Linked DNA regions of Homo sapiens. The protein of the gene in region 2 interacts with the protein of the main gene of each other region in a biochemical or structural test. Each region holds a gene or a part of one and is shown on either strand. Other genes may lie near its edges. The genes, in order: PEX12 and PEX10.

The links.
Region 1: the proteins of PEX10 (region 2) and PEX12 form a complex in vitro, tested with the Homo sapiens proteins (one study listed by BioGRID).

Annotation. Positions count from the first base shown.
Region 1 is NC_000017.11:35,575,647-35,580,224, forward strand, and holds the start of PEX12 (peroxisome assembly protein 12), read right to left. Parts: upstream 2,926-4,578; 5' UTR 2,376-2,925; coding exon 2,250-2,375; intron 1,946-2,249; coding exon 1,392-1,945; intron 536-1,391; coding exon 136-535; 3' UTR 1-135. UniProt on the Homo sapiens protein: Component of a retrotranslocation channel required for peroxisome organization by mediating export of the PEX5 receptor from peroxisomes to the cytosol, thereby promoting PEX5 recycling.
Region 2 is NC_000001.11:2,403,196-2,406,556, forward strand, and holds the end of PEX10 (peroxisome biogenesis factor 10), read right to left. Parts: coding exon 3,289-3,361; intron 2,640-3,288; coding exon 2,571-2,639; 3' UTR 779-2,570; downstream 1-778.

The DNA.
Region 1 (4,578 bases), on a different chromosome or scaffold from region 2:
AAATCCATATAATCATTTAAAGTTCATATAGTTATGAATTGAGGCTGAGAAGTGTCAACTCAATACCATGCTGAAACCAGCTCTGTGACATTACAGCGCAATACTTTTGTTGTGAGGATAAGACATGATTCCCTTTCAGTTCTCAGGGGAGTAGAGTTTAATCAGATGTTGTACTTCTGTTGGATAACCTGTGATGGGACAAGCTTGGTGACTCCTCACATAATGAAACACACAGCGGTAACAAAACACATAGCCAGAGGTGGCAAGAACAGTATCATTCACCCGGGTTTTACGACACAGTGGGCACACAGTCTTCATTTTGGGTAAGAGGGGAGAATCAGAGTTATAGTCTAGGTGTACAGGTGGTGGTGGAGTAGGCAGGGCAGTCAATGACTTGATGGTTTCTTGATTTTCAGATGAGTACCACCAGTCAAGGAACTGCAAGAAGAATACACCCACAGAAAGGCCAGTAGACAGGGATAAGGCAACACCCCCAACAGCTTTCTTCAGAGCTGAGTTTATCTTCTCACTAACACTGTTGGGAGAAAAGAACAAGGAGGCAAAGAGAGAAACTTTATTTAGGTATCATTACAAAGTGACTAATATAAATGCAATTCTTACATTTTTCATCAGAATCACTGGGGGACTGAATGGTTGGTAGACTGGTACTATCTCCTTAAGGATCTATTCTAAGTGATTCTAACTTACAATATTTTAGGAGCATAGGAGCTAAGCTTTGTTTTTAGTAACATGATTAGGGTTTGGTTTTGTGTTTTGAAAGATAAATCAGAGAATTTGATTATATAGACCTCCCTTTTTTTAGTGGAAGATAGTGATCCAGAAAAAAAAAAAAAAACCCAATTCACTTAATAAAAAACTTAGCAGTATTGAGGAATGTATATATTTGAACTTGTAGGAGAACACAAATATGAACTAGAAGGAGCACAGCATCATGATTAAGAGCACAGTCTTAGGCTGGGTGCAGTGGCTCACAGAGCACAGTCTTTAGAATTGTATTGGTTTGGTTTGAATCCCAGCTCTGCCACCTTCTATGTACCTACGTGACTTTGGCAAGGTACTTAACTGCTTGGGTTTAGTTTCCTCAACTGTGAGCTAATACATTTACTTCATTGGGTTGTGTTGAGGATTGAGATAATGTACGTAAAGCAAGCACCTAGCACAGGGCCTGGGACATAGCAAGTATGCACTAAAGTATACCTAGAATGATGAAGGTTACCAGGATGACAGTCCTTGTTTTATGGACACAAGGAATAGCTTTTCTATGACTCTATGAAATGCCACAAAGTTAACAGGGAGGTGAATTTTACAAAACTGGGATACGATTTTCGAATTTACTAACTAAAGATCTTTTGGAAATGTTAAGGCCTTACCTCCTGGCTGGTTGCTGCATCATGCTGGCCTTAGCTGGTTTGTGCTCCAGAGCTTGTATATCCTGAACTGTCAGTCGACCTAGCTGAACTCCAGCCAGCCTCAGCAGTGGTGAGTGATGCTGAGCTTTTCCTAGGATGTATCGAAGTTGTTGTACAAGAAACCATCCTTCCCAGGCCATGTTCACAAATGGGTAGGCTGCCAGGAAAGCTCTGTAAAATCGTTTCCAGCGGGAAGAAGGGGGATGAATAGAATATTCATCCTCTTCTCTCAGGCTAGAAACCAGCTTCTCCAGCTTCACTTTCAGATAGGGAAGAAGAACCAGGAACATAATAGATTTCCAAAGCTGCTGCTTTGGGAGACCAGCACTAGCCAATCTCTGAGACTTGTGAGTGTCCCCCATTACAATTCTCTTTAAGCCGTAAAAGTTTTCAGAAAATGAGGCACTGGTTCTAGACAGATAATGTTGCTGGAGCAGAAGATCTAGCAGAGTAAAGATTTCATCAAACCACCTCCACAAGAAGCCATAGTGGGTGGGATTTGATTCTGCAAGAACCTAAAGCAAAATAAAGCAATAAGTGAAATTCATTCCATTACACAAGTTCTACACCTATTTACATTCCCCCTTTTCCTCTAAAGTCTACACAATTTGTTTTAAATAAGTCACTGTTGGACCCTGAAATGCTGGGTATTCAGTACAGGTCTCTACACATAACAGAGACTCAGTAACTCTTAAGTCATGGGATACAAGTTATTTGCAAATTGGCTATTTCAAACGCTAGGCTACCAAATAAGCACAAATTATTCGTTTGTTTTTTACCCAGTTGTCCCTAAAACCTTTCCAAGAATTAATACCTTACCTTGACCACATGCTGAAGAGCGGGTCTCACTGCTGTCATTAAACTGTCCTGTGCTACCACCTCAAAGATGGATGGCTGGTCATCGGCCACAGAAGCAGCTGTGAAGTGAGCCCCGTGCTCAGCCATAGTTTCCTGCGTGTACTGGCTTTCACTTTTCCCACAAACTCTCTCGTGAGCATGAACTTTTTCGGGAGGAAGAGTATCAGATGGGTGCTCAGTCTTAAAGGTAAACTTTCTGCATGATATCTGAAACTCGAAACTCAATCTTATGGGCAAAAATGAACTGGGAAAAAAAGACCTGGAGGCCGAGGGTAGTCTCAAGAAGGTTAAGAACAAAGTTAACTCGGACGTGGGTGGAAGTAGTATGTGGCGAGGGGGTAACTTGTCAAATGCTGCACGTCAGGGCAGAGCGTGACTGTGGGGGACAGGTATGGGGGAAGGAACGCAATCCTCTGGAGCTGCGAACCAGAAACGCCCCCTCCTCCCCAATCGTGAGAGCTCAAAAGCCAGCCGACTCTGAGGATTCAGTCGTGCCACTGTGAGCCCGGGACACAAGGGCTGACTCCAGCTGTTGGCTTTGAGTATCCCCGCCCGCGCCCGTCCTTGCTCGCTGACCCCAGGCGAGGCGCAAACAACCCACGACGCCACGTTTGAAGGGAGGTCTCCGCTTTATGACAGAAGCCGCACCCGGAAATGAAACCACCAGGACCTCTGGGATGCCTGGCGGAAGAGAGGCGCTCTAGTTCCGAATGCGGTCCGGAAACCAGAACTAGAGAACTCTATGACCCACCTGAGCTTCCGCTCCCGCCCCGCTGAAACAGAAGAGGGCCCTTGTGGGCTGGTTTTGGCTAGTTTGGTTTACTTTTCGTAGCTGGGTCTGCATGGTAGCCTCGCTGGAAAGCTACAGCTCTGAACCTCTCTCTGCGAGGTCTTTTTGACAAGCTGTTTGGGGCACCGCGCAGACGTCTGGCGCCGGGAGCCAGAGCTCGGGCCCGTTGCTGAGCCCTGTGTTCCTGCAGGCGATGAAGCTAGGGGCGGTGGGAGGAAGGGAATCTGGAGGTGGAAAGGACTTTGCTGTACGCGTGCGGCAGGGATGGTGGTTAATTTATATGTCTTAGCCTTCCAGAAATGATTTAAAGCGACATAGCAGGAGATAGGAGCCTTAGATTTATTGCCGCCAATTATAAGGAAAGATGATTGGATTGAGAAAGGTTCATGCTTGTTCCTCAGTACTTGAGACGGTTAATTTTCATCCAAGCTGGTAGTTTAACGTCTTCCAGGTTTTGGCTATATTCAAGCATAACTGCATGCACTTGCTATACTGGATGAAAATGGTCTCCATCCTTGAACACAGTTGTATATGTCACCACCAGCGATATGAATACAGTACTAACGCAGAGGGAGCTTTATGAATTGTAACTAGCATGCACTGGGGACACTTGACAGAAAGTTTCCTTTCATGCCGTTTTTATACCAAAATGAATGTGATTTACCTTAAGGTTTGTAAAGTGCTTTTATGTTATGTACAGCTTTGTCTCGCTGAAGTTGGCTGACACAGCCTTATTGAATTTGGATGAGAGTTCCACCTCTCCTCCCTTCCTCTGGGAAGTGCCACCTCTGGGCTAAATAGCTGGGAATAGAAGGTATTGTTTACTGCCCTAGAGGCCCTTATGTTATAAAAATAATTGGTTTGCATAATGAGAACCCTCAAAAACAAGGTTTGGATTTAGTTATTCCAATAGGAGAGAAAACCTTACAAATTGTCCTTAATTATAGTTATAAAAAGTGTTTTTTACTCTACCAAAAGACATTATATTGATATATGATTTTTACCTTACAGAGTTTTAAGACTAGACATAGTTTATCCATATGAAGCACCTGGATACATATTAGGTGCTTGTTTAATAGTAACTGTTATGTACAAGCTTTTCTTAAGTGAATAGCAAAAATACAAAGTTGAGAGGTAGCATCAACTAAATCAAGCAGGAAATTAAACATTTTTGTCACTTAGGGATCTTTGGTTACAAGCAACAGAAACAAACAGGCTAATTTAAACTAAAACGGAATTTATTAGAAGTGTATGGAGTAGCTCACAAAATAAGTAAAGCCAGCCCTGAAAGAACAGGAACTTAACAATACTATTGGGACTGCCTAACAGGAATTAGAAGTTCTTATCCAGGCAACGTTGTTGCAGTGAACGAGCTTCCACCAATTTCTGTTTGTGACTCTGCTCGTGATACAAATTTTGACTGACCTCTCTTGGTTCAAGTTCCCTCTCCACCCTGTCTTTCACTCTTAGCCAGGGGAAGGCAGGATGTCTTGATTGATA
Region 2 (3,361 bases):
CACATAAAGTAGTTGATTACGAGGGAGTCAAATTTTCTTTTTAAAAAGGAGCTTCAATGATTTGTAACTGAAATATCAGGTTCTAGAAGAAACTGGCGCTTAAACCAAATCGCATGGATTTCTTTTTCAGTGACGTTCAAGTGTTTCTCACGGATGGAATTCTAGTCAGCTGCAGGCGGGAAGCCAGGCGGGTGGAGCCCATGGGAGCAAGGGCGAGTGGCCGGTCCCCGCTGTGCCAGGTGGGCAGGCAGGAGCAAGGCCTGCGAGGGAGGAACGGGCCGCTCCCCGCCAGCCGCCTTCCCCAGCAGCCGCAGGTGGTGCCAGCCACTCCACAGAGCCCGAGGGATGATCTAGCCTGATTCCTGCGTGTCCGAAAGAACTTAACGTTTTAAAGGTGATTGTCAAGTAACTGTGTGGGGTTCTAATGCCAGTTTCCTAATTCCATCTCACTGGAGATGTTTAAAGTTGGCCTCTATCCTAATGACTCAAAACTTGGTTCTTAACTACCATGATTGCTTTTGAGGGCCCGGAATTATAAATATATATTATATTTTAATTGTTTGAGATTATTTTGACACATTTCTTTGATACGTAGAGTGTTTTGTTTTTAATTTAAATCTGTCCTCATGCAACCCTCCATGAGGGGCAGCGAAGCTGGCAGGGAGCAGACTGGCTTTGTAGGTTCAGCACTCGGCCCCCCACTGCGGGAGAGGCGGAACCCACTTGCATGTCAGCGTTTTTGATTCGAGAAAAGAAATACTCTCAACGTTTTACCAAGTGATTTTACCTCCACCTTTACTAAAGTCTTTACCTAAAACATGGCAGTCGCTGGACACAGGAAAGCCCACCTTTTGTTTGGCCTTTTCGAAAGGTGACCCATATTGCACAGCAGAACATCACAGCTGTGGTCCCAGATGAGACACTGACATGCGAGTGAAGGCCTCTCCTCCTGGGCCCCGGGCTGCGCAGGCTCCTCACTCTGGGCGGTGTTTCCTGTCTCAGAATTGACACGGTGAATGCTTAGTGTCTGGATTTTCTTGTACCAGTGTTTACATATCTGACATCGAGCTCCTCTAAGAGGCCACGTTCAAGCTTGTGTGTCCCTGACCCAAGATAGCCAGTGCTGCTCCCAGGTGGTACTTCTGGTACCGTGTTGAGACACTTGGGATTCTCAGACTGTGGACAGGAGTGTTTGTCATTTTTCATACTGTTTTCTTAATAAGCGCTCAGGCCTAAGGTGTGACAGGAAGTCGCACGCGCTTGGCCAGAGCACAGTGAAGCAAAGGACTGGGTGCTGATGGATGGAGCCACGGCGGCATCTGCCCACCCGGCCGCAGCCCCCAGTGCCTCTCCTGGTGGTCCTCCCAGTCTAGAGGGTCACGGCCCCCCCGCCCTCCTCCGTCTCTGGCAAGCTGACCTTGACTAACCCAGGAATACAGGGTCATCCTCATTCCTAAGTAAGTCAAACAGCAAGACATGGTTTGCGCGGGTCTTTGCCGGAAGCCGGTCCTGCTGGCCAGGTGTTTTACGTCAGCAGGGAAATGTGGCACACGCCCTCGAGGCATTTTAACACTGCGCTTCAGGAAATCTCAAGTTCCATCTTGTGTTAGTAACGTACCCACATTTTGCTGGAGTTAGTTTATTAAAGATGCCTACGGTGAACTCTCTGGCGCAGGTTAAATGCAGTTTTGAAAACCTGGAAACATCAAATGGAGGCGGGAAATAGGCTGGGGCCGAGCTGAGGGGCTGAACACAGCAGTGACCGTGGGTCAGCAGGTCGCCTGCCCAGCAGGCCCCCCAGGAGAGGGCTCGGGCGCCCCTGGCAGCCCCCATACCCCCAGGACCTGGCTCGTGAGTGCGTCTGGGTCAGGAAGAGACCTCTCTGTGCGTCTCAGGCTGAGATGCAGATTTCTGTTTTCTAAAACTGGAAGCGACCTTGACGTGTATTGAAGGTGTGTGTGCCAAATGCTTCCGACGGAGGTGCTGGCCTTGGTTGGTTTCTCTCTGCCCCGTGTGGTCATCAAGTCCTGGGGGATGTGCTCTGCCCAGCCGCCCTCGGGGAGAGCAGCGCCGCCTCCCATGGGGCCGTGGGGCTGCTGTTCTCACTGCACTGGCTGAAGCAACCCGCCAGCCTCCGTGCCCCACCCCACCCAGCACGCACTCATTCAGTCCATTGCCTTAACACAAGCCTGATGGGGCTGTTTTCTCACAATATAAACGAATAAAGTGTCTTCTGGCCTACTTCTGAATTACTTCTCAACTGTATGGTTTGGGGAAGGGAGGGAAACCTAAAATCCCGTCCAAATAAGTGAAATTCCTGAAGAAGTGGCTGAGTCCTACCAGGTTGGGGTTAGGGAAATGTTCTGGGTTCAGGCGCCCCTCCCAGGGCTGAGAAAGCGCAGCCAGGGACAGCTTTCTGTTCTCTCCCAGGGTGGCTAGGTTAGTATCTTACATGACAAAAAACTGAGAGTGTTCTAACTTCTGTGCAAGCAAGGTTAATCCTGAGACTAAATCTTGGCGTTCAGACTCCCGTAGAGGTCATCTGTGTCCAGGCCCACCCGGGCGCCGGCTCAGCGGTAGTGCCGAAGGTAGATGAGCTTCTGGGGAGGGAACTTCTCCCGGCAGAGGGGACACTCCGCCTGCGGAGAGGAGAAAGGGGGTCACAGCAGCTGGGGCCACTGGGCCATGCCCATCCCCATCGGCATTTCTTTTCCTGTCCACATTCTCTGCACATGACACACAACATAAATGTTGTATTTCCTTCAACTAATGACCAAGAAAGCCAGCCTTTTTTCAGAAGGCCGAGTCCCAGTGGGGGCTGGGGCGGGGCTGGGGGCGTAGGGCTCAGGGTGTGGGGCTCGGCCGGGAGGTTCCCTCCTGCTCCCGCAGCTGACACAGCCCACGAAGCCCAGCTCCTGGGAAAGCGTGCGCTCTCACCCTGCCGGCATCTTCGGTGGGTGTGAGTCAGTGTGCTAGGGTTTTCAAGTGTGGTGAGGACCCCGGGAGGAAGGGTGTGCTGGGATGCGTGGTGCAAGCGTGGGGCCTTTCAGGGCTGGCCACTACCCCAACCTGCATTCGGCAAAGCCTCAATACACGTGAATTTGGAACTTTAACCCCCTCAACGAACCCACATCTGACCTACCTGGGAGCCTTTAAAAAGATGCCCACCTCTGTACCCTCAAAACTGGAGGGTGCTCAGAGCCAGACTCCCCACTTCTGCTGCAGCCAGGTGCATCTTGCCGGCACAGCCGCTGACCACCCCAGGACGGCAGCAGGCTCCCACCTCACCTTGCTGCTGCACCACGCGGTGATGCACTCCCAGCAGAACAGGTGGCCGCAGGGCGTGGCTGTTGGGTGCCTG